Linked DNA regions of Homo sapiens. The protein of the gene in region 6 purifies or fractionates together with the protein of the main gene of each other region. This does not show direct contact. Each region holds a gene or a part of one and is shown on either strand. Other genes may lie near its edges. The genes, in order: APPL2, TRMT1L, RRP12, POLR3H, SMARCA4, POLR3F and POLR3B.

Region 1 (4,009 bases), on a different chromosome or scaffold from region 6:
GAGTGTTTTCTAACTTGGTTCCATTCTCCCTGTCACTTTCAGGTACACCAATCAAATATAGGTTTGGTCTTTTCACATAGTCCCATATTTCTTAGAGGCTTTATTCACTCATTTTCATTCTTTTTTCTCTAATCTTGTCTTCACACTTTATTTCATTAAGTTAATCTTCAATCTCTGGTATCCTTTCTTCCACTTGATCGATTTGACTATTGATACTTGTGTATGCTTCACGAAGTTCTCGTGCTGTGTTTTTCATCTCCATCAGGTTATTTATGTTCTTCTCTAAACTGGTTATTCCAGTTAGCAGTTCCTATAACCTTTTATCCAGATTCTTAGCTTCCTCGCATTGGGTTAGAACATGCTCCTTTAGCTTGGAGGAGTTTGTTATTACTCACCTTCTGAAGCCTCTTTCTGTAAATTCTTCAAACTCATTCTCCGTCCAATTTTGTTCCCTTGCTGGCAATGAGTTGTGATCCTTTGGAGGAGGAGAGGCATTCTGGTTTTTGGAATTTTCAGCCTTTCTGTGCTGCTTTTTCCTCATCTTTGTGGATTTATCTACCTTTGGTCTTTGATGCTGGTGACCTTTGGGTGGGGTTTTTGTGTAGTCATCCTTTTTGTTGATGTTGATGCTATAGCTTTCTGTTTGTTAGTTTTCCTTCAGGCCCCTCTTCTGCAGGTCTGCTGCAGTTTGCTGAAGGTACACTCCGGACTCTCTTTGCCTGGGTATCACCAGTGGAGGCTGCAGAATAGCAAAGACTGCTGCCTGCTCCTTCCTCTGGAAGCTTCATCCCAGAAGGGCACCCACCAGATGCCAGCTGGAACTCTCCTGTATGAGGTGTCTGTCGATTCCTGCTGGGAGGTGTCTCCCCGTCAGGAACCACCAGAGTCAGGGACTCACTTGAGGAGGCAGTCTGTCCCTTAGCAGAGCTCAAGCGTTGTGCTGGGAGACCTGCTGCTCTCTTGAGAGCTGGCAGGCAGGAACATTTAAGTCTGCTGAAACTGCGCCCACAGCCACCCCTTCCCCCAGGTGCTCTGTCCCAGGGAGATGGGAGTTTGATCTGTAAGCCCCTGACTGGGGGCTGCTACCTTTCTTTCAGAGATGCCCTGCCCAGAGAGGAGGAATCTAGAGAGGCAGTCTGGCTACAGCAGTTTTATGGCGCTGCGGCAGGCTCAGCCCAGTATGATCTTCCTGATGGCTTTCTTTACACTCTAAGGGGAAAACCACCTACTCAAGCCTCAGTAATGGCGGATGCCCCTCCCCCCCACCAAGCTCGAGCATCCCTGGTCAACTTCAGACTGCTGTGCTGCCAGTGAGAATTTCAAGCCAGTGGATCTCAGTGTGTTGGGCTCCGTGGTGATGGGATCCACTGAGCAAGACCACTTGGCTCCCTGGCTTCAGCCCCCTTTCCAGGGGAGTGAACAGTTGGGACTCGCTGAGGTTCAGACGCCACTGGGGTGCGAAAAAAATTCTCCTGCAGCTAGCTCAGTGTCTGCCCAAATGGCCGCCCAGTTTTGTCCTTGAAACTTAGGGCCCTGGTGGTGTAGGCACTCGATGGAATCTCCTGGTCTGCGGGCTGCAAAGACAGTGGCAAAAGCCTAGTATCTGGGCTGGATAGGTCTGTCCCTCACTCACGGCTTCCCTTGGCTAGGGGAGGGAGTTCCCCGACCCCTTGTGCTTCCTGGGTAATGCAATGCCGCACGCTACTTCTGCTTGCCCTCCATAGGCTGTACCCACTGTCTAACCAGTCCCAGTGAGATAAGCTGGGTACCGCAGTTGGAAATGCAGAAATCACCTGCCTTCTGTGTTGGTCTCACTGGGAGCTGCAGACTGGAGCTGTTCCTATTCAGGCACCTTGTCTGGGAATCAATTTTTCTTTTTAAATCTTCTAATTTTCTGTGTGACCTCTAAATGGTCTCAGAACCTATTCCACTGCAGGGGTATGTTTACTGTGGTGACGTATGCATAACGTCAGATTTATCATTAGTGATGTTAAGTGTCTTCATAACTTTGTGCAGCCATTACCACTATCTAGTCCCAGGACATTTTTATCATCCCAGAGGAAACTCCATCCCCATTAAGCAGTTACTCATTCCTCCTCCCACCCTCTGGCAATCTCTAGTCTGTCTTCTGTCTCTATGGATTTGCCTACTCTGGATATTTCATATAAACAGAACCCTACAGTATGTTGCCTTTTGTACCTGGCTTCTTTCACTTAGCACAATGATTTCATCATTCATCCATGTTGTAGCACTTATCAGTCCTTTGTTCCTTTTTAAGGCCAAATAGTATTCCATCATATATATATACAGGTTGAGTATCCTGTATCTGAAATTGTTTTGGATTTCAGCTTTTTTTTCAGATTTTAGAATACTTGCATTATATTTACCAGGATGAGCATCCCAAAATCCAAAATGCTCCAATGAGCATCTCTTTTGAGCATCAAGTTGGCACTCAAAAAGTTTCAGATTTTGGAGCATTTGAGATTTCCAGATTTGGAATGCTCAACTCTACCACATTTTGTTGATCCATTCATTTGATGTTGGGCATTTGTATTATTTCCACCATTTGGATATCACGAAAAGGACTGCTATGAACATTTGCGTATAAGTTTTTGTTTGAACACCTGTATTTAATTCTTTTGGGTAACTACCCAGGAGCCCGCCAAACTATTTTTTCACAGCAGCTGAACCATTTTATATTCCCACCAGCAATGGGTTCCAGTTTCTTCACATCCTTGCTAAACGCTTATTTTCCATTAAATATATATATCATATATATATCATATATATCATATATATGATATCGATATCATATATATCATATATATGATATATCATATATATATCATATATCATATCATATATCATATCATATATATATCATATATATCATATATATATAAACATCTGTGAGACAGTGTGCATGCGTGCGCACGCCATCTTAATATGGAGTGACATATCTCATTGTGGATTTGTTTTGCATTTCCCTAGTAACACATAGCATCTTTTCATGTCCTCATTGGCCATTTGTATATGATCTTTGGAAAAATGTCTATTTCAAGTCCTTGGTCCATTTTTTAATTGGGTTGTCTTTCTGTTGAGTTTTATAAGAGTTCTTTGTATATTTTGTGTACTACATCCATATTAGATAGAATTTGTGAATACTTTTTTCCCATTCTGTAGTTTTTCTTTTCACTTTGATGTGCTGTGGTTTTTCACAGTACTTTTACATATATTTTCCTTTGATCTTTTTGGTGGAAATTATTCCAGGACCAATAGGATTATAAGAACCATGAGCCCATTTCTGTAAAAGGTCCAGGACATAGTGAAAGAACAGGTTTTATTAATAAGAACTTAATTCTCAGATAAGGTTCATAATAAATGAAAAGGATGGGCTTAATGAATGGAAGAAGCTATATCCTAATTTTTGCTATAGTCCTAGTTACCTTTTTTGAAGCTAACGTTCATTGAGCACTTTTCATGTGCCAGTGAGTTGTAAATGTCTTACATATATTAGCACATTTATTCCTCATGACATTTATTCCTCATGACAACAGTGGAGGGTGTGAATAGTTACTTTCATTTTACAGCTGAAAAAACTGAGGTACAGAGGCTCAAAAATTTGCTTAAGGTCACATAACTAAGAAATGCCGAAGCCAGGAATAAACTGAGACATTCTGGCTCTAAAGCAGTGCTGTCCCTTAGAAATGTAATGGAAGCCTTATATGTCATCGAAGTTTTTCCAGCGGCCACATTAAGTGAAAAGTAACAGATAAAATTAATTTTACTTAATCCAGTATATCTAAAATATTACCAGACATGTGATTAACCTAAAAAATTAGTGAGATGTTTTACATCCTAAATCTTAGAAATTTGGTATGTATTTAACACTGAAAACACATCTCAGTTCAGGCTAGTTTTGCTGCAGATGCTACCTGTGGCTACAGTATCATACACCCATGTTCATAACCAGGATTTTGGTCATATCTGAAACCCAGATCGTATTACC
Region 2 (4,009 bases), on a different chromosome or scaffold from region 6:
TAGTACTATCATTTTAAGATTTTATGTGTTGACCAATGGTCTTAGAATAACCATATAATTTAAAAGTTATAGAAGAGCCCACAAAAATTAGTCTAATTTCCTTAATTTACTTATGAGAAAGGCTCACAGATTAAAAACAAATTTTTTTTTTGAGATGGAGTTTGGCTGTGTTGCCCAGGCTCACACAATCCTTACACTATCCTCCCACTTCAGCCTCCTGAGTAGCTGAGATTACAGGTGTGTGCTACTGTGCTCTTGGCTTTTGAAAATATTTTTAAAGCTTATTTATGTTTTACTTTATTCTAAAAAGGATTTAAGATAATTTTGCTGAATGGGAGGGACCTGGCTGAGTTTATATAACAACGCCTGCATAGGATAATACTCTTAAATCTAATTTTTTTTTTTTTTTTTTTTTTGAGACAGTCTCGATCTGTCACCCAGGCTGGAGTGCAGTGGTGCAATCTTGGCTAACTGCAGCCTCTGCCTCCTGGGTTCAGGCAATTCTCCCACCTCAGCCTCTCAAGTAGCTGGTATTACAGGCTTGCACTGACACACCTGGCTAATTTTTGTGTTTTTCGTAGAGACGGGGTTTCACCATGTTGGCCAGGCTGGTCTTGAACTCCTGACCTCAAGTGATCTACCCAACTTGGCCTCCCAAAATGCTGGGATTATAGGCATGAGCCACTATGCCCAGCAAATCTAATATTCTTTATAGTGTATCATAATGCTTCTTTGTCTTCCCTCCAACAGAGAAATTAGGTAGAATGTATCAATTTAAGTTATCAAATTAGTTGAAGATGCCAAATGAACATGGCTGTTGCAAAGAGTATGCAGTAGTTATTTAAACTATATACTATTAAAAGAAATTTAAGTTTCCTTGTCTTTGAAGGTCAACATTAAACTGCTGAGCAACTAATAAAAAATTACAGCTGATAACTAAAGGCCACTGCTCTTTCAAACTTAACACTCTACAGTCTTCTTTTCATCTGTACTCAAAAAACACATCTAGAATCTAAAGTTTTTTAAAAAGCAAAACAAAACCTTAGACATTAGGGCACTGATATTTTAAATCTTAACATCCTTTAATATGAATTTAGTGTCTACCACAGCTAGATTTAAAGTATGCACATATCCTAAATTATATGAAAGGCCATATAATAAATTCTTTTGGCTGAAGAATGAGGTCTTCTGGTTACTTAAATGGAATTGCTATAAATCATATATTAATGAGCAATTTTTAAAAGAATTAGAATAAAATTTTATCTTAACTATAAAATTATATATAACTTTATCATATATAATTTGATCTTATTTTATTCACATGGTTCAAGATCATACAGTTCGTTCAAAGGGATAACCATATATTACAGATGTGAACAAAGCATATGTTAACAGAAATTTCCTATGTGTGAATGCTGATAAACAAGTTTTACTACAGTTTTGTTGTCATATAATATGAAATGTATTTTTAAGTAGGCTACCATGGCAATCTCTTCTCTTCCTACCCTTTTGCTATATGCCTTTTTGACCTGATATGTACATATGTACACACATATATGCATACATACCTTGTGCAATGTAATTATCTGTTGTGGTGTCATCTGTAGTTTTAATAAATACACCATTTTCTTCTAAAAAATAAAGCAAATGGGAAAAGAAAATATTTTACAGAATGACATAAAGCAACAACTCAGTTTAAATAAAAGTTTATGAAATTCCATCCACACTATTTTCACGAATATGCAAGAGATTCTGTGGCCAAACTGAACTGCAAAAATTACATTTTTAACCCTCTATAATAGCAGTTTCTAATTATTTATGAGAACACTAGGATATTCAATAGGCTCATATCAATAGTCAGATACAACTACAAAATTGGCTGTTTGTACTAAACAGAAAAAACACATAGCTTTACTGAATGAGAAGTATAAATGTAGTTTCTGTGTCTTCATAGATATTACAATTTTTGGCCACAACACTCCTTGAATTACCAAAAGTTTCTTTTTCTAGAAAGCACATCTAGGGTAATAAAAATCACAAAGGACCTTTAGTGTTTTTTTTTTCTTTTTTTAAATCTAGTAAAATTAAAAACACACAAAAAAGGAGGTTATCTTTAAAAAAAAATTATCAGGGCATGGTGGTTCATGCCTGTAATCCCAGCCACTTTGGGAGGTCAAGGTGGGAGGACTGCTTGAGCCCAGGAGTTTGAAATCCGCCTGGACAATATGGTGAGACCCCATCTCTAAAAAATATTAGCCAGGTGTGGTGTGCATGCTTGTGGTCCCAGCTACACAGGAGGTTGAGGCTGAGGCAAGAGGACTGCCTGAGTCTAGGAGGTTGAGACTGCAGTGAGCCATGTTTGTGCCACTTGTATTCCAGCTTGGGTGAAAAAGTGAGACCCAGTATCCAAAAAAAAAACAACAAAACCAACAACACTATTCATCATTCACCTATTCATCTCAGGCCTGATTACAAGCCTGAATAAAACTATGTAATTAAAAAAAAACCAGAGGATCAGACTCATTAGAGAAGATTTACTAAAAACACACTATTTATAATTATATTGGTTTTATTATAACATCAAATACAATTGAAAAAGATACAGTATTTTTGGTAAGCAGTTTAAAGCTAGTAAGCTAGCGTTCAGTTAGTCACCTTGCTTGTTGACATTTGAAGATGCATGAATTGAAAACTGACTTTGAGGCGTACACTCTGATTCAAAGATTAATGTCTTTATTAGGGTCTGAATGTCATCCAAACCATGGTGAAGAGATTCAAATAGCATTCTTTTGAGGAATCCAGTATTGAAAAGGGAACTTGACCTGAAAAGAAAAGAATATACAGAGAACTGGGTTTGAAAAATGTTTCTCTTTAAAAAGAAAGTCTTCACAATTTAACTATAAGTAAGATATATAATTAATTATATGACAGAGTAATACTTAAATTCAAAAAGAATTTATGATTTAATTTAAAACTGTTTATTTTCTTTATTATTATTATTCTTTTTTGAGATAGAGTCCCGTCCTGTTGCCTAGGCTATAGTATTTTATTATTTTTTAATAGAGATAGGGTGTCATCATGTTGCCCAGGCTGATCTCAAACTACTGGGCTCAAGGGATCCTCCTACCTTGGCTTCCCAAAGTGCTGGAATTACAGGTGTGAGACACCACACTTCTGGCCTAAAACTTTATTTTCTATTTGCCACTCATTTTTATCATATCAGTTCTCTAAACTAGTAGCATTAGTCAAGGAAACTTAATTAAGTCAACAAGAATCTATTGAGGCTGGGAAGGGGAGAAGGGAGAGGGTGATGAAGAGGGGTAAAAGAATATAAATGTATTTATTACCACTGAAGTGTATACTTAAAAATGGTAAAGAAGGAAAATGTTATATGTGTATGTTACCTTAATAAAAAAATAATTTATTGAACTCTCATAAGGTATACAGTACTGTGGTACACAGAGGGTGTGTGGAGGATATACCAAAATATAATATACAATGTTGACCTTATAAAAGCCTATAAATCTAGACAGGAAAATAAAGCAATGAAGAGGTTTTCACAATGCACATTCTAGTCACTAATAGAAAATCTTAATTCTGATGAGTTTATGGTGGTAGGGTGGGGCAGGACAGGGCAGGGGAGCACATATATGAGAATTATATGTGGTGATGGTATGGTTCAGAAATAGTCTGGGGTGAATCTGATATGCTTCCCATTTAATTTAAGAATCACAGGTATAATGGACAAAATATGAAATTCTGAGTATGATAAACTGGATTCCAATCCTGGCTCCACCACTTACTAGTTATGTAATCTTTTTATTAAGAGACAGGGTCTCACTATGCTGCCCAGGCTGAACTTGAATTCCTGGGCTCAAGGGATCCTCCTGCCTCAGCCTCCTGAGTAGGTGGGACTATAGATGTCTGCAACTGTGCTGGGCTAGCTATATAATCCTGAGTAATTACTACTTTTCAGTCTTATATTCCTCATCATGAAATGTAAAATAAA
Region 3 (4,009 bases), on a different chromosome or scaffold from region 6:
GGGGGAAGTCTGTAACACTTCAGGCACTATGCTAATGCACTTTACACGCCCAATCTTACCAAACTGTCCCAATGACTCCACCAGGTGGTCTATTTATAACCCCACTTTACAGATCAGGAATTGAGGCTTTAAAAGGTTAGGCTGAAGCCAAGATGGGACCCCAGAGTCTGCCGCTTCCCCACCGATATCACTATACCCTGATGTAGGCTCTGTCACCTACGGGTGGTGCCCAGGAAGGCTGGATGGGCTGGGGCATAGTCTGGAAGGGCAGAGAGGGAAGAAACTGCTCCAGAATGGAAATGTTCCACTGAGCTTGAGACTGACAGGTGTTGGGTGATGGGTTGGGCCCACTTCACCCTTGTTGGTTCAGGTGGGGCAGCTGAGAGGCTGTTTCCATCCTGGCAGGCAGCACTGCCAGGTCAACAGGGGTAATGGTGGCAAAGAGGTTGAATTCCTGGGCTTAGGAGACTGGAAAACCAGGGTTCAAATTCCTGGTTTGCACAGACTGAGTCCTGTGACCCTGGGCAGGCTACTTACCTCTGTACGCTCCTCTGGTCACTGGGACAACGGAGTCCCTATCTTCGTGAGGCTATGTGGGGCCCTCAGCACAGTGCTGGGCACACAGCCATGCTCCCCTACGGTGGATGCCCCCACCCCATGCAGGAGCACACAGGGAAGCTGCTGCCCTTGCCCCTGCATAGCACATGCCCTCGCTAGAGAGACAAGGGTCTCTGCCTTCTTTCTCCTTTAACTAGACAACCATCACCCTGTCCTGCCTGGCACCCACAACCTTCTGGACCGCCTGCTATGCACACCTGTGAGGATGCACCGAGCATTCCAGAAACAGGGCAGTTCCAATGTCTACGTGTGGTGGGGGTGAGAAGCTGTGGAGCCCAGGCTTAGGTCTGAAGCCCTAGCCCCCCATCTGCAGGAACTACTCACATTCCTGATGATCACATCTTCCATTGGGTCAGCCATCTCTTCATCTTCGCCTGGAGCCAAAAAAGAGAGGCCCATGAGCGCTGTGGGAGCTCCTCAAAACCTACCCTTTCCTTCTGCCCCCTCCTGGCTCACCAGGCTGCGGGGCCACCAACTCCGGCCCCAGAAAATTGCCTTCCTCAGACCAATATCATCCTTCTGCTAGAAGAGATGAGACCCCTGAGCACTGCCCCTTTCTCCTTCCCACCCTAGGCCCTAGGGATAACGGCCCCTCAAAGAAGCGGTGATCCTACTTTTGAGGTGAATATGGCTTCGTTTGAAACTTTTCTTTTCCCACTCACCCACCCTTCATCTGTTTGAGATTTGAAGAAAGCCCCAGGTTTCCGGGGGAGTCAGGCGCTCCTGCAGCCCCATACACACCCCCACTGTGCCAGGAAGGCTTCATTCTCCTGTTTGAAATCTCTGCCCCATGCAGTATGTGCTGGGCTCCATGTGGGAATATAAAGTATGAAACTGACCAATTGGAGGGAAGAGAAACTCAGGCAAAGTCAATCAACAACCAAAAGACGATAGAGAGCACGTGACCGGCCATGTGTGGTGGCTCACACCTGTAATCCCAGCACTCTGGGAGGCCGAGGAGGGAGGATCACCTGAGGTCAGGAGTTCAAGACCAGTCTGCAACATGGCAAAACCCCATCACTACTAAAAATACAAAAATTAGCTGGGCATGGTGGCGCACGCCTGTAGTCCCCGATACTTGGGAGACTGAGGCAGGAGAATCACATAAACTCAGGACATGGAGACTGCAGTGAGTCGAGATCGAGCCACTGCACTCCAGCCTGAGTGACAGAGCGAGACTCTATCTCCAAAGAAAGCACATGACCAAGGGCTGAAGACTGGGTTTCCTCTGGGCTTGGCAGGAGTTCTGGGGGAATCAGGCCTAAAGGCTGAGGTGCCCAGGAAGGGCTACAAAAGGAGCTTTGAGCTGAATCCTGAAGAGCAGGGGGGTTTGGAAAGGCAGAGAGAGAGGGGAGGGGTCCTGACAGCCTCAGGAATGCCTGGGCACCAAGGGGGACAGGAGATGGGAAAGTATACAGGGGCGAGAGAGGAGCAGAGAAGACACTAGACACGGAAATATAACAGGCACATGTACACCAAGTACATACGCTGTCCCCATTACACCGATTCATCTTCATTCCAACCCGGAAAAGTGGGTATTAGGATTGTATGATATCCACTCTGAAGCAAGGAAACGGAGCTAAGGAGAGGCTGACCGAGCGGCTGCAGTCGTGTGGCTGGTGAGTTGGGTGCATGTGGAGCAGTGAGGCTCCAGTTAGGAGGTGCAGTGAGACAAGGGCCCAGAGCTCGCAGCACTGGGAACCAAACAAAGGGATGACAGGTGTGTTCTTGAAGACCTAGGTGTTTTTTTTTTTTTTTTTTTGAGACAGAGTTTCGCTCTGTCACCCAGGCTGGAGAGCAGTGGCACAATCTTGGCTCACTGCAAGCTCTGCCTCCTGGGTCCACGCCATTCTCCTGCCTCAGCCTCCCGAGTAGCTGGGACTACAGGCGCCCGCGACCACGCCCAGCTAATTTTTTGTGTTTTCAGTAGAGATGGGTTTTAACCGTGTTAGCCAGAATGGTCTTGATCTCCTGACCTCCTGATCTGCGCGCCTTGGCCTCCCAAAGTGCTAGGATTACAGGCGTGAGCCACCACGCCTGGCGAAGACCTAAGTGTTTCTTAGCTAATGGCTGGATATGTGGAGAGGGGCCAGGAAAGACTAAAGAGAGCTCCGAGATGCCACACCGGAGGGACTCCCGGGCAATGTGAGACATTGGGATTGGGAAGTTGGGAGGGTTTCAGCCTCTGGCTCTTTCTGCCTCTAAATCATCTTCAGGGCCTTAGCCAAGTTTGCATTAAAAAAAAAAAAAAAAGAGGAAGGAAGAAAAGGAGAAAGGAAGAGGAGGGGGAGGAGGAGGAGAAAAACAGAAGAGACTAACAGCGTATCACACACAGTAAGGGGAAGTACCATTTCCGATAGTTTCCTTTAAGTTAAATATGTATTGTATAAATGGCTCGGTTACAACATAAAAAGATTTCTTAATGTTTCTCAAAAAAAGTTTGAGAAACTCAAAAAGTTTGAGGAAGCTGCCGAGAGAAGAGTTTCTCTGGTCTGTTTTTAGCCACGCTTCCTCAGCAAGTGATCACCGAAGGAATAAGTGAACACGGTGAATGAATGGACAAGCGCGTTGGGCCCACCTTTGGCACCTTCCTCTTCCTCCATCTTGTTGCCGTCTGCCTCCTCCCTTATGATCAGCCGGCCATCGGCGCTCACCTTGAAGCCGTGGTCCTTCTTCCTGCCCCGGCCTGGCCCTGGCTGCGTGGCTGGGGTGTAGAGTTTGGCATGAGGAGGTGGAAGGCCAGTCCCATGCTACTCACCCTCATCATGACCAACAAGCCCGGCTCAGGGATCCCAAACGGGCGCCTCTCAGCCCTGTCCATGGGCCTGCCATGGATGCCACCCCCTACCCACCACCTGAGAACCTGGCACCATGGCAAGTCTGTTTTCTGAGTGCACTGGCCAGCCCTGTGCTTACCCAGGACTCGTTGGGCCACCTTGGGATCCAGGAAGTTGAGGGGCTCGTCCCCACCGCCCTCTTTCAGCCATGCCCGGCTCCTCTGTCGTGCCAGCTTCCGCTGCTCCTTGCCTCGGCTTCTTTCCTCCTCCTCATTGTCCTCCTCGTCCTCTGAGTCAGCTAAAATCTCCTCAATGCTAAGGACAAAAAGCCCCCAGTCAGAGTGCTCCCAGGAGAGGCGGGGGTCAGCGGGTATTGCCTGGGCAGGCCCTTGGGTTGGGGGGACACCGGGTCCCATGGCCCTAACATGGTCTCACCTGTCACCTTTGCCCTGGGCGGGCTCCTCCTCCTCCTCCTCCTCTTCTTCCTCCTCCACGGCAGCCTGGCTCAGGGCTCGGTGCCTCTTGGCCCGGGCCTCAGCTTTCCGGATGTTGACCAGGACTCTGTGGTACTCCTCGGGCAACAGCCTTTTCACCAGCTCAAATCTGGAGGTGGC
Region 4 (4,009 bases), on a different chromosome or scaffold from region 6:
GGCCATCCTCATCCCATCCCTAGTGATCAAGGTCACTCTCCCTGCCCGTGGCTGAGTTGGGCCTGGTTCTAGGCTGTGTCCACTGCAGCCCACAGGCCCGTCAGCCTCTTGCCCCTTCTTAGGCTCACACAGTGCACATCCGACGCTCAGCTTCCCGGCTTCCCGCAGGCCCTGCTTCCAGGCTTGTAGATCTGAGCCGCTGAGATCTAGGACATGTGCCAGGGGGTTCTTTCTGATCATGAATGTGCAGCAGGAAGGCCTCGCAGACCTCAGCACCAGCGCACACTTGCTAGGGGCACCCCTAGTGAAAGGGAGCAGACCAGGGCCCCATAGTCACTGCCCGGGCATTGTCCCAGGCAGCAGGATTAGGGGCATCTCCCAGAGCCCCAGATGGGTTCAGAAAATGAAGCTCTCCAGGCTAGTCAGGCCCCCGATGACCGAATGCCGCCTGCTTTCCAGAGACCAACCTGAAGAAACAGGGCCTGCTGCCTCTGACCTTCGCTGACCCGGCTGACTACAACAAGATTCACCCTGTGGACAAGCTGACCATTCAGGGCCTGAAGGACTTCACCCCTGGCAAGGTTAGGGGCCCGGGTCCCCCTGAGGTGGTGGGGTGAGGGGCAGCCACCTTGTTTCCCCTCCTGCACTGGCCCCAGGGTAGCTTCTCCCAGGAGGCTTCATTCCAGCTGGAAAGGCCCCCAGTTCTCCAGGTGGCCCCACAGAGAAAGCAAAGTGGCTTCTCAGAGTTGGGGGTTGGAGTCAACCCGGGGCCCTCACACCTCCCCAACCTCCCTTTACTCACCAGGACCTGGCACTCAGGGGACAGCCCACCCACTGCAGGACCCTCTGGGCCCCAGGAATCCCCTGTAGGTGCCACCTGGGTCTGACCTGGGCCATCAGGCACAGACTGGCCTAGGATTTGGTTTGCCTGCTGACCTCTTAGGTCCCCAGGCAGTGCCCTGTCTCCCTGACCCCCCTGCGGGGCCAAGGGCACACAGTACCCACCACTTCCACCCACACCCACCTTCTCCTTGCAGCCCCTGAAGTGCATCATCAAGCACCCCAACGGGACCCAGGAGACCATCCTCCTGAACCACACCTTCAACGAGACGCAGATTGAGTGGTTCCGCGCTGGCAGTGCCCTCAACAGAATGAAGGAACTGCAACAGTGAGGGCAGTGCCTCCCCGCCCCGCCGCTGGCGTCAAGTTCAGCTCCACGTGTGCCATCAGTGGATCCGATCCGTCCAGCCATGGCTTCCTATTCCAAGATGGTGTGACCAGACATGCTTCCTGCTCCCCGCTTAGCCCACGGAGTGACTGTGGTTGTGGTGGGGGGGTTCTTAAAATAACTTTTTAGCCCCCGTCTTCCTATTTTGAGTTTGGTTCAGATCTTAAGCAGCTCCATGCAACTGTATTTATTTTTGATGACAAGACTCCCATCTAAAGTTTTTCTCCTGCCTGATCATTTCATTGGTGGCTGAAGGATTCTAGAGAACCTTTTGTTCTTGCAAGGAAAACAAGAATCCAAAACCAGTGACTGTTCTGTGAGTGATTGGTGTCTGTGCCGTTTGTTGTCAAGTCCAGGGTCCAGGAAGGGTCTTTTCAGTCAAGGTCAGTGGAGGCCCAACAGCCACAGCCACAGATGGATCCATCACTGCAGTGAAGGAGGAGCAGGGCCTAGATGGTGGAGGAGCGGGGCAAGCTGGTGGGCACTCCTGGCCTTGCCTCACTGTCCAGCTCGAGACACTATCTCCTTAGCATCGGCCTCAGCTGCTGTTGTCTTCACAGCCGGCCATACCACCTTCCCGCAGGCTGGTAGGGTCCACTGTCCAGCCCCAGGGCTAGTTGCTGGTCCACCAGGAGAGAAGGCCCAGGCCTGGCTCACTGATGGATCCCTGCCAGGGATAAAGAACACGCACATTTCACTGACATGCTGGCTTGAACCAACCTGGACAGGAGGTGAAGGGAGCCCAGCAGGCCCAGCACAGGCAAAGAAGAGGCGGGGCACACGGCAGCCAAGAGGCTCTGGAGAGATGTGGGAGCCACAGCAGTGCTCCCAACGGGCACGCAGCACGCAGGGCGCAGACCCTTCTCCAGGGACTCCAGGCCCTGATAGGGTCAGGGACCCTTCCTCACCCTTAGGCCTGCCCTCCAGGGCCACCTAGGTTCTAATCGTGGCAGGAAGGCTGAGCAAACACAAGGCCCATGCTCCAGACGCATCCAACAGGGAGCAGCCTTGAAAGCCACTCTTCCCCGGAGCCCTCCCTTTTATTTCACTGCTGCAATGCTGCTCCTACAGGGAGCCCTACCTTTTTTTTGTTGTTTTTTTTTTTTGAGACAGTCTCGCACTGTCACCCGGGCTGGAGTGGAGTGGCACGATCTTGGCTCACTGCAACCTCCACCTCCCGGGTTCACACCATTCTCCTGCCTCAGCCTCCCAAGTAGCTGGGACTACAGGCGCCCGCCACCACACCCGGCTAATTTTTTGTATTTTTAGTAGAGATGGGGTTTCACCGTGTTAGCCAGGATGGTCTCAATCTCCTGACCTCGTGATCCGCCCACCTTGGCCTCCCAAAGTGCTGGGATTACAGGCGTGAGCCACTGTGCCCCAGCAGCCCTACCCTTAATCTCAGGGCTTTGATCTCTCCCAAGCCCCTTCCTTGATTTCTTTCTCCCTCAAACCCCTCCCTACCCCCCAATTTTTTAAAGATAGCATTTCATTGTGTTGCCCAAGCTGTAATGCAGTGGCACAACCTTGAACTCCTGGGCTTAAGGGATACTCCCATCTCAGCCTCCCAAGTAGCTGGGACCACAGGGCACGCCACCATGCCCTGCTAATTGTTTTTTATAGAGACAACTTCTCACTTTTTTAGCCAGGCTGGTCTCAAACTCCTGGCCTCACACGATCCTCCCACTTTGGCCTCCCAAAGTGCTGGGATTATAGATGTGAGCCACTGCACTTGGCCTCAAAGCCGCTTTATCAGTGGTCTTGTCCACCGTGAGCTCTGTCCCCTTTGCAAGCTGACTCGCCCACCCCACCAGCAGCCATGTACCTTTACTGCCTCACAGCCCTGGCCTACAGAAACTCAGGCTCTCCAGGGAGAAGTGACCAGCCAAGACCCCCCAAACAGGATCCCTGACCTGCTGGGGGAGATCCCAGAGCAGAAGCCCCAGGACACAGCTTCCAGCCCTGCACTCCGGCTCTCCCGCCTCATGGGGGCTTCAGCACCATCAGAGCCACTCACCACAAGCGTGTACGGAGCCTCCTTCTTTGGCAGCTCCTCACTGGAAGTGGTGGCATCTGCTGAGCTGGGCCCTGTGGGGGACGTGTCAACAAAGCTCTCGTCCACCACCCGGAAGCGGATCTCCTCGCCGGTGTCCATGTAGAGGTCGTGTGCTCCTTCCTCCGTCTCGTACTCCCACACCCACACCTGCTCCGCTTCGTCGCTGAGGGGGTCCAGGGTCAAGGCAGCAACCAGATAGTGGGAGGGGCTTCCCTCAGCACCCACTCCCCGACCCCGCAGGAAAAACCAATCTCAGGGTGAGATCACTGTGGCTGGGAAGTCACAGGAAAAGCAGGTCCCAGCCCCATGCACAAGGCCTGGGCCAAACAGAGAGGAACAAGCGCTCTTGGAGGCCAGGACCCAGGAAGGGGAACATGGGGTCCCCAGCCAGGCACCACGGCCAGACGCACATGGATCTCAGAGCACCAGAGCAGGAGGGGACGAGACAGGGTCCGAGTCCCACCTCTCAAGACAAGAGCAACCTGGGCCTCCTGCCACGGAGCCCCACACACCCTTTTCATCAAAGCCTTGTGACAGGCTGATGGGCACCCAAGGACTTGCCGTTTTCAAGAGGACATAGTGGGATGGGAGGTCACCTGCCCACTTGGATGACAGGTGGTGAGAGAACCAGCCGGGCTGCGCCAGGTTTTCTAACACATCCTGGAGTCACATGCAGACCCAGAGCCGTGCTGCCACCCAGCCAGGGCAGTCCCCCTTGGCTCTCC
Region 5 (4,009 bases), on a different chromosome or scaffold from region 6:
AGGAGTTCGAGACCAGCCTGACCAACATGGTGAAACCCGTCTCTACTAACAATACAAAAATTAGCTAGGTGTGGTGGTGCACCTGTAATGCCAGCTACTTGGAGGCTGAGGCAGGAGAATCGCTTGAACCCTGGAGGCAGAGGTTGCAGTGAGCCGAGATCACGCCACTGCATGATGTGTGCATTGGTGTTAAGTCAGCTATTAAGAGGTGTGGGCTGGGTGTGTGTGGGGGTCAGAGGAGGTGATGTTTGCCCTGAGATGAGGTCAGAGCCCACATTCCCATGGGGGTGGACTCCCCTTTGTAGGCCTTGACACGAGCATGGGAGCGGAGCTAGGGGCACTGACATCAAAGGTGGTGGCGCCTATCCAGAGGACTCCGGGTTTCATTCCAAGTGCGGGGAGGCTGCAGCATGTCCCTCTTTAATATAGAGGTGAGGGAGGCTCTCAGCACCCTGCCTGTTGCAGGGAAGCCTGAGGACAGGACCTCCAGGGAACTCTGCACCAGAGCGGAATCCTCAGACCGGCAACTGGGTGGTCTTGATTCATCCAGAACGTAATTCTCCTAGAGGTCTGGGAAGGGGTGCTCTTGTACCTTGGTTTTGTGTTTTGTTTTTGTTTGTTTTTTGAGACAGAGTCTCACTCTGTCGCCCAGGCTAGAATGCAGTGGTGCGATCTCGGCTCACTGCAACCTCTGCCACCCAGGTTCAGGTGATTCTCCTGCCTCAGCCTCCCGAGTAGCTGGGATTGCAGGTGCCTGTCACCACGCCTGGCTCATTTTTGTATTTTTAGTAGAGACGGGGTATCACTATCTTGGCCAGGCTGGTCTTGAACTCCGGACTTCGTGATCCACCCACCTCAGCCTCCCAAAGTTCTGGGGTTACAGGCGTGAGCCACTGCGCCCAGCCGCACCTTGTTTTTTTTTTGCTGCCTGTAGCTGTTTCTCATTAGCCTGATGGAGGTGGCTGTTGGGGTGGTGGGGTGCTTATTATAAAGCCTTCTGCTGTCACAGCCCTGGGGTCTCACTTCCTGGGCTCTCTGCATAGGGAGCCGCCCTCCAGGGCAAGGGCCACAGTGTGCAGTAAGCCCCCCATGGCCACAGGGCAGGGCGTTTCAAGCCAAGAGTCTGCACTGTTTGCTGGCCACTAAGGGCATTGAATGGATCACAAAACTGGCTTTTTTTTCCCCCAGTCAAATAGAAATGGGGTTTTGCCATGTTGTCCAGGCTGGTCTCAAACTCCTGGGCTCAAGCAATCCTCCCACGTTGGCCTCCCAAAGTGCTGGGATTACAGGCACGAGCCACCATATCTTTAAAAATGTAATAGAATGGAAAATGGCAAAGCGCGCTGCTTTTCATAGAAGAGACTATCGCATTGGGGTTCTTCTGTTGCCCCTGCCTGTGCTGCACGTCCTGCTTCACAGTGTAAAGCGCAACTCTTGCTGTGCCTTATTGTAACAGGTATAGGGTGGATGCTGCCATCATGAAGAGAGAGGAGAGCTCTTTGCTTATAAAATTCCGTAGAGTGGAGAACAGGATGTGCCGGCTTAGGAGAGGGAAGAGGTACAGGCCCGCTCTGCCCGAGCTGCAGATGGGACACACATTTCCCGACTCAGAGGGGAGTCGTGTCTTTCTCCAGGGTCACCGAGCAGCAAGCGCATCCACTGTGTGTTCTTATTTTCTGAGCCTGTGGACTGGGTTTACCAACAGTTGCCTGTGGCAGAGCCGGCCACCAGCCCGCTCATAGGAAAAAGGAAGCCTGTGCCTCCAGGGAGGGCCCACGATGGGAATGCAGTCTGAGAAGGGTATGTGCTCCCATGCTGGACCGGCTGGTCCCACACCCAGGACCAAAAACACCTCCTGGCAGGAGATGGGGAGATGTACTTCATGAACACACGTTGGGGAAGGACACTCCTGGAAGGCAGAGGCTCAAGGCGGGCTGTGTCCAGGCCAGGAGATTCACTCCCACCTCAATTTCCTCCTCAGCACGGCTGGCCTGGCACTGGTGCCTGCTTCAGAGTTTAGTGTGTGTAAAGTGTGGCTGGCCCAGCAAGCAGGGGATGATGGCGGTTGTCAAGGCCAGGGGAGGTGCAGGGACAGGATTCTGGCTCCCGTGTGTAACGTCTGCATCTCAGGAGGCTCTCATGTTAGAAGCTGGGTCAGGGGCTTCGTGATGCACACAAACACCAAACAAGCAGGAGGCCTTCCGGGATCCTGCTCACGAGCAGCTTCCTGGAGGCAAGCCTGGCCCGTCTGCCCCTTGGTGACATCAGGACCCCAGCAACAGAACCAGGGAAGCCACCATGTTGTCGCTGCCATTTTCCAGCGTGGTAAACAGAAGCAAGACAAGGCGCACTCAGGACACCCAAACAGACGGCGGGGCCAGCCAGTGGCATGGGCGGGCTGCCCTGCCCTCTGGAATTTTCTGGGAAAGAACATAAGGAAAGAAGCGGTGCTGATGAGGCAGCTGGAGTTATCAGGACCCAAGCTCAGCTCCTCCTTCCCATCAGGCCCCGTTGGCCACTTTTAGGCTTCGTCCGCCTGGTGGCTCCCTGCTTGGGGCCGTTCCCTGGCTAGGCCCTTCCTCTGGGCCAAAGCAGAGAGGAGAGCGCGTTTGCCATGCGTTCTCATTTTCCCAGCCTGCGGGCTGGGTTCTGTCAGAGCAAGGTCAGCTCTCAGAGCTTCTGTCCCCACCCACCCTGTCCTGCTGAGCCAGGCTCAGGTATGGGTAAGAGCTGGGAGCGCTGTGCACGAGGCCTGGCAGCATCTCATCACTGCCGCTGTACCGAGTGCACAAGGGCGCTTCCTGTGGTGTTCAGGGGGTTAGATCAGTCCCCAGTGAGGACAGAGCAGAGATCCAGATGCATCCCAGGCCGGCTGCAGTGGCTTCTGCCTCTAATCCCAGCACTTCGGGAGGCCAAGGCAGGCAGATCACGAGGTCAAGAGATCGAGACCATCCTGACCAACATGGTGAAACCCTGTCTCTACTAAAAATACAAAAATTAGCCGGGTGTGGTGGCTGGCATCTGTAATCCCAGCTACTCGGGAGGCTGAGGCAGGAGAATTGCTTGAGCCCAGGAGGCAGAGGTTGCAGTGAGCCGAGATCATTCCATTGCGCTCCAGTCTGGCGACAGAACAAGACTCTGTCTCAAAAAAAACAAAAAACAAAAAAATGTATCACAGGCCTGTTTGTGTGGTTGTCTCTGGGAAATGTTCCAGAAGCTACAAGAAAGCACATGTGCAGGCCAGGCATGGTGGCTCACACCTGTAATCCCAGCACTTTGGGATGCTGAGGCGGGCTGATCACCTGAGGTCGGGAGTTTGAGACCAGTCTGACCAACATGGAGAAACCCTGTCTCTACTAAAAATACAAAATTAGCCTGGCATGGTGGTGCACGACTGTAAAAAATCCCAGTGACTCCAAAGGCTGAGGCAGGAGAATCTCCTGAACCTGGGAGGTGGAGGTTGCAGTGAGCCGAGATCGCACCATTGCACTCCAGCCTGGGCAGCAAGAGCGAAACTCCGTCTCAAAAAAAAAAAAAGCGCATGTGCAAGAAATAGCTCCTGAGCTGAGTTGGAATTTCTCATCCTTAAACAATGTGGGAACCTGCTGAGGTGGGGTGGGGGCTCCCGGGTGGGCGGACTCGGGGGTGATAGCCGCCGGTTCTGCCTTGCAGCAGCAGTGGACGTCAGCTCAGCGAGGTCTTCATCCAGCTGCCCTCGCGAAAGGAGCTGCCCGAGTACTACGAGCTCATCCGCAAGCCCGTGGACTTCAAGAAGATAAAGGTAACCCTGACGTTGTACCTGCGCCCCGCATGTGCCCGGAGGGGAGTCTGACCCAGGGGCACCCCCATCTGAGAGCTGTGGTGTGTGGGCAGAATGACCAGAAACCACCTAGGCGGTGCCTTGGGCTACCTGGTTAGGGACCTGGTCGTGGGCTTTTGGGGTTCCTTGTAAGGGTTGGGGGTGTCCTGAGGGATGTCAGTGGGCAGTCGGTGTTGGGTGTTCCTTCAA
Region 6 (4,009 bases):
ATAAATAAAACAGTAAAGGGTCATAATTCTGCTGTGAAATGGGAGAAACATTATGCTGGGGTGGAGTAATTTAAAGCACAAAGAGGAGGAACAATAGGCCAAGTTAGCACAAACCACTGAGGTGCCAGGGACAGAACTCTAAGCTCATGCTGAGTTTGACACTTTCTGGTATCTTTACTTCCTAAGTAAAATCGAGAAATCTTATAAAAAATAACATTTCTTTAGCAGGAATTTATTGGAGATTTATAAAATGCTTGAGCAGAAAGGCACTTTAGACATCAAATAGTCCAAGTTCCTAGTTTTTATGAGAAATCTGAGGCCCAGGAAATTAAAGTGACATGTCCAAAATGGCCACTTTGATTTCTTCACTGTGAAAAGCATCAGTGTCCTTAAAAAAAGAATTTCAAAAGGCTAGGGTACAGTGGCACTTTGGGAGGCCAACGCAGGAGGATCACTTGAGTCCAGAAGTTCAAAACCAGCCTGGGCAACAAAATGAGACCCTACCTCCAAAAAAATAAAAAAAGCATCAGTGTCCCAAGCTGAGTATCAGTTCAGACAATGCCCAATGGCAGTGACTGCCTTTGCCTAAGATACAGGACAGTATTTTCCCAAAGTGGATTCTGCAGAATGTTCGTAGCTATCATCTCAAAAAAAAAAAACAATGTGGGTCAAATACATGTTTGGAATACATTGTATGTGACAAAGAATAAGTTTTAAAAAATAAGATGAAATTCAGTTCTGACCTTACTGATTCCCAATTCGCAGATATATTTCCACACTTCATGTGATGAGGCAAATGAACTATTTCTTTGTATCATTGGGTTCTGTTTGCTTTCTCGTGCTGTTTCTGCCTATAAGGATTGAAACATAAGAAATGTAAATAAGAATATTGGTGTGTTTTCTGAATACACTTTATACTGAGTCAAACCAACAACAGAACATATTTAGTTAAGTAAAAATTCCCAATTTCAGGTTTTTAATTCCTATAAAATATGATAAATAGATTAAAATCCTTTGTGAAAAACTTTTTACAAGAGGGTTTGCAGTGATGTTTCCTCAATCATACCTCACCTTGGACTGTAGGAATTTAAAACACTGTTGGTTAAGCACCTCTACAAATTCAGATTCAAAATCCTGGTCACTGTACCAGGCTCCACCAGTCACAGACCGGTCTGGCTGCAGGTTATAGAGCATATACACCTTCTTTTTTGAGGCCTAGGAAAGAACATGCACAGTTCATGTGTTTATAAGATAACAATTTCCAAAAACAAAAACACCTATATTTTGGAACAGTTTAAGATGTACAAAATTATTGCAAAGATAGTACACAGAGCTCCTATATACATCATGCTGTTTCCCCTATTTTTAACATCTTGGATTAGTGTGGTACACTTGTCACAATTAATGAACTAATATTGATAAATCATTACTAACTAAATGCCATACTTTATTCAGATTTCATTAGTCCTAATGTTCCTTTTCTGCTCCAGGATTCCATCCAGGACATCATACTACATTTAGTCATCTCTCTCAGGCTTCTTTTAGTTGTGACAGTTTCTCAAACACCGTATTTCTATCACTATGGACTCATGAGTATTTATTTTATACTTTGATTTACATTCAGATACTTCATTGTTATTCCCACACTGGAAGCTTTGGAATGCTTTGGGCATTGGAAGCTTTTCACTTGGTTCCTGTATCCCTTTGCTATGCTCCCATCGTGTGTGTGTGTATTTTAGCACTTTTTTTTTTCTTTTGGAGACAGGGTCTTGCACTGTCGCCCAGGCTGGCGTGCACTGGTGCAATCTTGGTTCACTGCAACCTCTGCCTCTTGGGTTCAAGTGATTCTCCTGCCTCAGCCTCCCGAGTAGCTGGGGCTACAGGCATGTGCCACCATGCCCAGCTAATTTTTGTATTTTTAGCAGAGACGGGGGTGTCACCATGTTGGCCAGGATGGTCTCGATCTCTTGACCTCGTGATCCTCCCGCCTCAGCCTCCCAAAGTGCTGGGATTACAGGCATGAGCCCCCGTGTCCAGCTATTGTAGCACTTTCTTACTTTCTAGCACTACAAGATGTCAAGAGCATTTTCTTTTCTTTTTTTTTTTGAAACGGAGTTTCGCTCTTGTTGCCAGGCTGGAGTGCAATGGCACACGATCTCAGCTTACTGCAACCTCCACCTCCCAGGTTCAAGCGATTCTCCTGTCTCAGCCTCCCGAGTAGCTGGGATTACAGGCGCCCGTCACTATGCCCAGCTAATTTTTTTGTATTTTCAGTAGAGATGGGGTTTCACCATGTTGGCCAAGCTGGTCTCTAATTCCTGACCTCAGGTGATCCACCCTCCTTGGCCTCCCAAAGTGCTGGGATTACAGGCATGAACCACCCTGCCCAGCCGTCAGGAGCATTTTCTACATGTTCATTTTATTGCATGATAGAAACCACGACTTGGGCACTAGATGTGTTCATTGCCATCGGGATGTCATCACTTCTAGGCCTTCTCAGTTGGCAGCACGAGATTTATGTGCGCATATTAACCCTTGTATATATACATAGCTATACTCAATATTTCTAAATATAACCATCTATATTATTTATATTAAATTACACAAGAGTCCATACTGATGTTTTCAAGTCTAATCCATTACTACATGGATCATTCTAACTTTCCTTGTTTGTCTGTAACTACTCACCCCAACACTGAGGAACCCAAATTTCACTGGGTTGTAAACATGAAGAATTTGGGCCAGGCATGGTGGCTTATGCCTGTAATCCCAGCACTTTGGGAGGCTGAGGTGGGCAGATCTTTAAGTCTAGGAGTTCAAGACAGGCCTGGGTAACATAGTAAAACCCTGTCTCTACAAAAATACAAAAATTAGCTGAGCATGGTGGCACGTGCCTATAGTCCCAGCTACTTGGAAGGCTGTGGTGGGAGGATGGCTTGAGCCCAGGAGGTTGATGCTGCAGTGAGCTGTGATTGTGCCACTGCACTCCAGTCTGGGTGACAGAGCCAGACCATGTCTCAAAAAAAAAAAAAAAGAAAAAAATTTGGCTAGACTTTGTCCCTTTTTCCTAGGAAATAACTTCTACATCTTTGGAATTTCCCAATAGGCCTTGTTATTCATGGTGAATCCCTTAGATCACACCTGGGTTTATGCTAACAAGGTGACTCCTGATAGGACTCTAAATAGTTTCAGGATAGGAGTTGTCCATGCTGGAAAGACCAACCGCATGATTAGAGGGTTGGGGCTTTGGGCCACATGACATCAGTCCAATCTCTTGGGAGAAGAGAGGAGCTGGAGATTGAATTCACTCACATGACCAAGGATTCAATCAATCATGCCTGTATAATGAAACCCTAATAAAAACTTTGGACAGCAAAGCTTGGGTGGGCTTCCAAATTTGGTTAATGCTTCTGTCATACAAAATAATTTCACCACCCTAGAAATATTTCTCATGCTTCACCTATTCAACTTTCCCTACCATCCCTGCCCTCACCCCGATCTTTTTAGTCTGTCTAGTTTTGCCTTTTCCAGTATGTCATATAGTTGTAATCATACAGTATGTAGCCTTTTCGGACTGGCTTCTTTTACTTAGCAATATGCATTTAAGATTTACTCATATCTTTTCATGATAGCTTATTTCTTTTTATAACTGAATACTATTCTGGTTTGTCTATCCATTCACCTATTGAAGGATACCTTGGTTGCTTCCAGTTTTTGATTATGAATAAAGCTGCTGATTACGAATAAAGCTGCTATAAATATTCATGTAGTTATGTGGACATGAGTTTTCAAATCAGTTGGGTAAATACTTAAGAGCTTGACCTTTGGACAATGTGGTAAGACTCTGTTTAGTTTTGTAAAAACTGCCCAGTTTTTTAACAAAAGGACTGAAAATTTTGCATTCTTAGCAATGTATGAGTGTTCATCTTGGTCTGTATCTTGTCAGCATATGGTATTACCAATTTTTAGATTTTAGCTATTCTAATAGGTGTGTAGTGGTATCTCACTA
Region 7 (4,009 bases), on a different chromosome or scaffold from region 6:
GAGTCTGCCCTCAGAGAGCTCAGTCTGCCGGGAAAGGCAGAAAAAATGACTAATAACAATCAACTGTGGTAGTGGTTAATGCTAGCCACCATTTGTCATTTTAATGGAGACACTATATGTGTAAGGCTTTAACTTCTTCATTCAACCCTATGAGGTTGGATTATTCTTGTCATTTAAGAAATGAGGAAACTGAGGTTCAGTGAGGCTAAGTAACTTACTGAAAGCTAAAGAGTGGTGGAATCTGTTTTTTATTTGAAAGTCCTTAGGATTCGTTTGACGCATGATTTTGCCCACTATAGTCTGTTGCTACAAACTGAGCTTTAAAGGAGGAGTAGGATTGTGTTAACTTGGAGGTAGGTGGGGAGGAGAAAGGCTGAAAAAAGGCAAGAATGAAAACATGGAGGCATGAAGAAATAAAATAACACTAGATCCAATGGAAAAGTAGGTTCCTTTTATTCATTCAGTAAGTATTTATTAAGGGCCTATTGTGCACAGGTACTATCTAGGAGCCGGAGGTACAGAGACGAATGTGACATGGTGTCTGGTTTGAGGGGCTATGCAGAGACATCAGCTGAGGACATTGCCTTGTGTCACAAGCCTTTTCTAGCATTACCGTAGTTATTCTGTGTATACCTCGGGTAGTGTTGAAGCACAAGGCAGTGAGCCAGCAGTAGCTGGAAGTCTGTCAGAGCTGGGAGAGTGACTGCATGCTTTCTTTCCTCCAGCATCCTTTCCTCCTTCATATGACACTACCTCATTTTCTTTTGAGGACTGCCTGTCCCCATTGGCAGGCTTCTTGGGATGGTCAGTCCAGCACCCTCTTCTCTTCAGCCAGGGGTTGGGCATATGACCCAAATGAGGTCAGTCAGACCCCCTCATCAGAGAATTTGAATCCCAGGTAAAATAAATCAAGGGAGGGAGGTGGTTGGACTTGATTCATTCTCCCAGTGCTACATGCAAGAGACTGCCTGTTAAACCTCATTTTCTGGATTCTTGGAACTGCTCTCGTTCCTTTTCTTTCTGAGGCTGAGCATTTCACCTTTTTCTTTGATTCTTATCCTTCCATTAAATTATTTTTTTTTTTTTGAGACAGAGTCTCACTTTGTCACCCAGGCTGCAGTGCAGTGGTACGATCTTGAGTCACTGCAGCCTCCGCCTCCCAGGTTCAAGCGATTCTCATGTCTCAGCTCCCCACCCCCGTCCCTGACCCAGTAGCTGGGATTACAGGCACACACCACTGCCCCTGGCTAATTTTTTGTATTATTAGTAGTGATGGGGTTTCACTGTGTTGGCCAGGCTGGTCTCGAACTCCTGGCCTCAAGTGATCCACCCACCTCAGCCTCCCAAAGTGCTGGGATTACAGGTGTGAGCCATCGCACCCAGCACCTGTAAATTCTTAATGCTTCCAGTAAACTTCATTTTTGCTTAAATTAGCCAGAATTGGTTTCTCTTCTTTGCAACCGAAGAATGGTTAGCTGATGATATACCTGTGTTTGAATCCTAACTTCCCACTTACTGAGTTGTGTGACTCTGAGTATACTACTTCAGTCTCTCAGCCTTGGTTTCCTTGGCTGTAAAATGGAAACAATAATGCCTGCCTAAGATTGTCCTGAGAACTAGTTGATAGAAGGTGTGGTAAGTGCTCAGTAGGGTGCCAGGCACACATTAGGTGCTTATTTATAACTTAATAGCATGGTCCAGTTAAGGGCAGGAATAACAGTGACATTTTCTAGGTTACTCTTTTTTAGGATTTCATTACATCCAACATAATATATATTCAAAAATAAAACTCTTTTATAGAAGCAACTTTATAATGGCATAACAGATCTAGCAGGAAAAAATAGTAGAATGCGTTGAGTAACGTAAGGATAACTGAGGCAGCTAAATGTGATCCCCTCCCTCTCCTCCGCCGGTTTCTGTCTTCTCATCTGAGGCTTAACCTGAATCCACTGCAGCGCTCAAATGAGGCATTAGTAGGCTCTGCTTCCCTACCAAGAAGGAGCCAGAATTTCGAGGTACTGTGGATTTCCATGAAAAGCTCACCCAGTTCATTTTTCAACAACTTGTGTTCCCCTTTTGTAATTGTGCAGCTCCTCTTCTTAACTGTTGAAAAGTGCTCATTAGTCCTCAAATAGTTATTTGGACTTTAGGGTAGAGCGCACAAGTGTCTGGTGGTTACTTGCTCCTCTCTGTAAGAGCTGCTTATCCAAATAGCAACAGCCCTTGACGTTTCAGTGCCGCATGCCATCCTTTGTGTCCGGGTTTCCTCATGGTGGCAAAGCCCTCCGAGGCAAGTCCCCACTGACAGTTACAGGTTAATCTGCCAGAATGCCTTCTCCACCTTCCACCCATTACGTCACTGAAAACCACAAAGTAAGAAAGCTTCATTCTCTGCCAACTTTTAGCCACTCTCTTTGGTAATGTGTAGCTTTAAGTATCTTGCTAACCTAGCTCAGTGATGTTTAGACTAAATCAAACTACTCTAAACATCTGGATATTCATCAGAACCTCACAACACAACGCCGTTATTACCCTAGGTGACAGTGCTTCTTTGCCTGTTAACTCCATGAGTAGTATGCAAAATTTTCCAATGTGAAATCGGGAAGTTTTTAGATTGATACATTACACCGTTTTTTAAAATATGGCATTAAAGGTTTTGTTTCCTTTTCAGACTTTGAGTATCATTTTTGTGTTGCCTTTTCATTCAAAACCAAATGTTTCCTAAGATACTTGCAGGAAGCACTGTGTGTGTGCATGAATATGTCCACACATACTCACATGTACACATGGGCTTGGGTATGTATGTGTGTGTATGTGAGAGAGAGCATAGTCCCCTACACCATGCTCATCCATACAAAAATTACCTGGTGTCCTCAGCAATCCAGGAATAGGTTTGTTTGTATTTACATCTTCCCTCATCTCACTTTGGTAAACTAACTTGCCTGTGTAATTTTTCCCTGGAACTATTATTAATTTGGTTTGCTGTTTCCATTCTAGACCCTACATAATTGTCAAGAAACAGAAGCCAGCAGTCACAAATAAACATATGGAAGAGCTGGCCCAAGGGTACAGGTAAGTAGCCAAAAGTAAAACTTACCAATCTCCTTAATACCCACATACATGATTTAAGAAAAGTGTATTTTCATTTTAGTGTTTTAATTTCTTTCCACCAAATTACCAGCCTGTTAAAAACCTATTTTGCTCCATGTGAACTTGCTTGGACATTGTAAAATATTCATCAATTTAGATCATGAGGGTTACCTAGTCTTGATGTCAGTTAGTACACAAGTAAGTGTTTCTGGTAAGAAAAGGACTTACATCATGTGTCAGTGTAGACACTGTGGGTCTCATTATGAGGTTTCTAAGGTCAGAATTTTTTTTTTAAGAAGTGGGGACTAGGTTCACAAGAGTTACAGACAGACACTTTGCTGTTTTTATTTCAGCAGTTTGTGGTTACTGTGTGAGCTAAGAATAACATGTTTCAGGTATCCCAATGTAATGATATTCTCTGGGAGAGAAAGGTGCTTTGGGCCTAAACGAAAGCCAGTATCTCCTGTTATTATATAAAATACTGCAGAAAAATGCTTTTTAATGATGTCTCTTTCACCAATATTTTCCCAGGAATTTTGAAGATTTCTTACATGAGAGTCTGGTTGAATATTTAGATGTGAATGAAGAAAATGATTGTAACATTGCACTGTACGAACACACAATTAATAAGTAAGTAGGATCCATAGCAACCATAATTAAAACGTGTTCTGACTATAGAAACTACCTTCTCTTTTACTGTCATCTTCAGTCCTTCTATCTTTTACTCTTTTGACAGGAACTGTTAGAAATATACAATCTTCTTTTTTTTGTTTGAACATGCAGGTTTGTTACATAGGTAAACGTGGGCCATGGTGGTTTGCTGTACCTATCAACCCATCACCTAGGTATTAAGCCCAGCATGCATTAGCTATTTATCTTGATGCTCTTCCTCCCCCAACCCCCTAACAGTCCCCCTGGT

What was found.
Region 1: the proteins of POLR3F (region 6) and APPL2 purify together in Homo sapiens (affinity purification with mass spectrometry; one large-scale study listed by BioGRID and IntAct). This does not show direct contact.
Region 2: the proteins of POLR3F (region 6) and TRMT1L purify together in Homo sapiens (affinity purification with mass spectrometry; one large-scale study listed by BioGRID and IntAct). This does not show direct contact.
Region 3: the proteins of POLR3F (region 6) and RRP12 fractionate together in Homo sapiens (co-fractionation; one large-scale study listed by BioGRID). This does not show direct contact.
Region 4: the proteins of POLR3F (region 6) and POLR3H purify together in Homo sapiens (affinity purification with mass spectrometry; 4 studies listed by BioGRID and IntAct, with this or other methods). This does not show direct contact.
Region 5: the proteins of POLR3F (region 6) and SMARCA4 fractionate together in Homo sapiens (co-fractionation; one large-scale study listed by BioGRID). This does not show direct contact.
Region 7: the proteins of POLR3F (region 6) and POLR3B fractionate together in Homo sapiens (co-fractionation; 4 studies listed by BioGRID and IntAct, with this or other methods). This does not show direct contact.

What each region holds. Positions count from the first base shown.
Region 1 is NC_000012.12:105,183,846-105,187,854, forward strand, and holds part of APPL2 (DCC-interacting protein 13-beta), read right to left. Parts: intron 1-4,009. UniProt on the Homo sapiens protein: Multifunctional adapter protein that binds to various membrane receptors, nuclear factors and signaling proteins to regulate many processes, such as cell proliferation, immune response, endosomal trafficking and cell metabolism.
Region 2 is NC_000001.11:185,122,289-185,126,297, forward strand, and holds part of TRMT1L (tRNA (guanine(27)-N(2))-dimethyltransferase), read right to left. Parts: intron 2,823-4,009; coding exon 2,656-2,822; intron 1,632-2,655; coding exon 1,569-1,631; intron 1-1,568. UniProt on the Homo sapiens protein: Specifically dimethylates a single guanine residue at position 27 of tRNA(Tyr) using S-adenosyl-L-methionine as donor of the methyl groups. Dimethylation at position 27 of tRNA(Tyr) is required for efficient translation of tyrosine codons.
Region 3 is NC_000010.11:97,362,912-97,366,920, forward strand, and holds part of RRP12 (RRP12-like protein), read right to left. Parts: intron 3,999-4,009; coding exon 3,831-3,998; intron 3,711-3,830; coding exon 3,535-3,710; intron 3,323-3,534; coding exon 3,197-3,322; intron 993-3,196; coding exon 943-992; intron 1-942.
Region 4 is NC_000022.11:41,527,442-41,531,450, forward strand, and holds part of POLR3H (DNA-directed RNA polymerase III subunit RPC8), read right to left. Parts: intron 3,448-4,009; coding exon 3,246-3,447; intron 1,896-3,245; coding exon 1,842-1,895; 3' UTR 1,173-1,841; coding exon of another isoform or gene 1,038-1,172; 3' UTR 582-1,037; coding exon of another isoform or gene 460-581; 3' UTR 1-459. Other genes in the region: ACO2 (aconitate hydratase, mitochondrial precursor), read left to right, coding at 460-581, 1,038-1,172.
Region 5 is NC_000019.10:11,054,583-11,058,591, forward strand, and holds part of SMARCA4 (SWI/SNF-related matrix-associated actin-dependent regulator of chromatin subfamily A member 4), read left to right. Parts: intron 1-3,672; coding exon 3,673-3,781; intron 3,782-4,009. UniProt on the Homo sapiens protein: ATPase involved in transcriptional activation and repression of select genes by chromatin remodeling (alteration of DNA-nucleosome topology).
Region 6 is NC_000020.11:18,477,244-18,481,252, reverse strand, and holds part of POLR3F (DNA-directed RNA polymerase III subunit RPC6), read right to left. Parts: intron 1,216-4,009; coding exon 1,072-1,215; intron 852-1,071; coding exon 744-851; intron 1-743. UniProt on the Homo sapiens protein: DNA-dependent RNA polymerase catalyzes the transcription of DNA into RNA using the four ribonucleoside triphosphates as substrates.
Region 7 is NC_000012.12:106,434,060-106,438,068, forward strand, and holds part of POLR3B (DNA-directed RNA polymerase III subunit RPC2), read left to right. Parts: intron 1-2,997; coding exon 2,998-3,072; intron 3,073-3,621; coding exon 3,622-3,720; intron 3,721-4,009. UniProt on the Homo sapiens protein: Catalytic core component of RNA polymerase III (Pol III), a DNA-dependent RNA polymerase which synthesizes small non-coding RNAs using the four ribonucleoside triphosphates as substrates.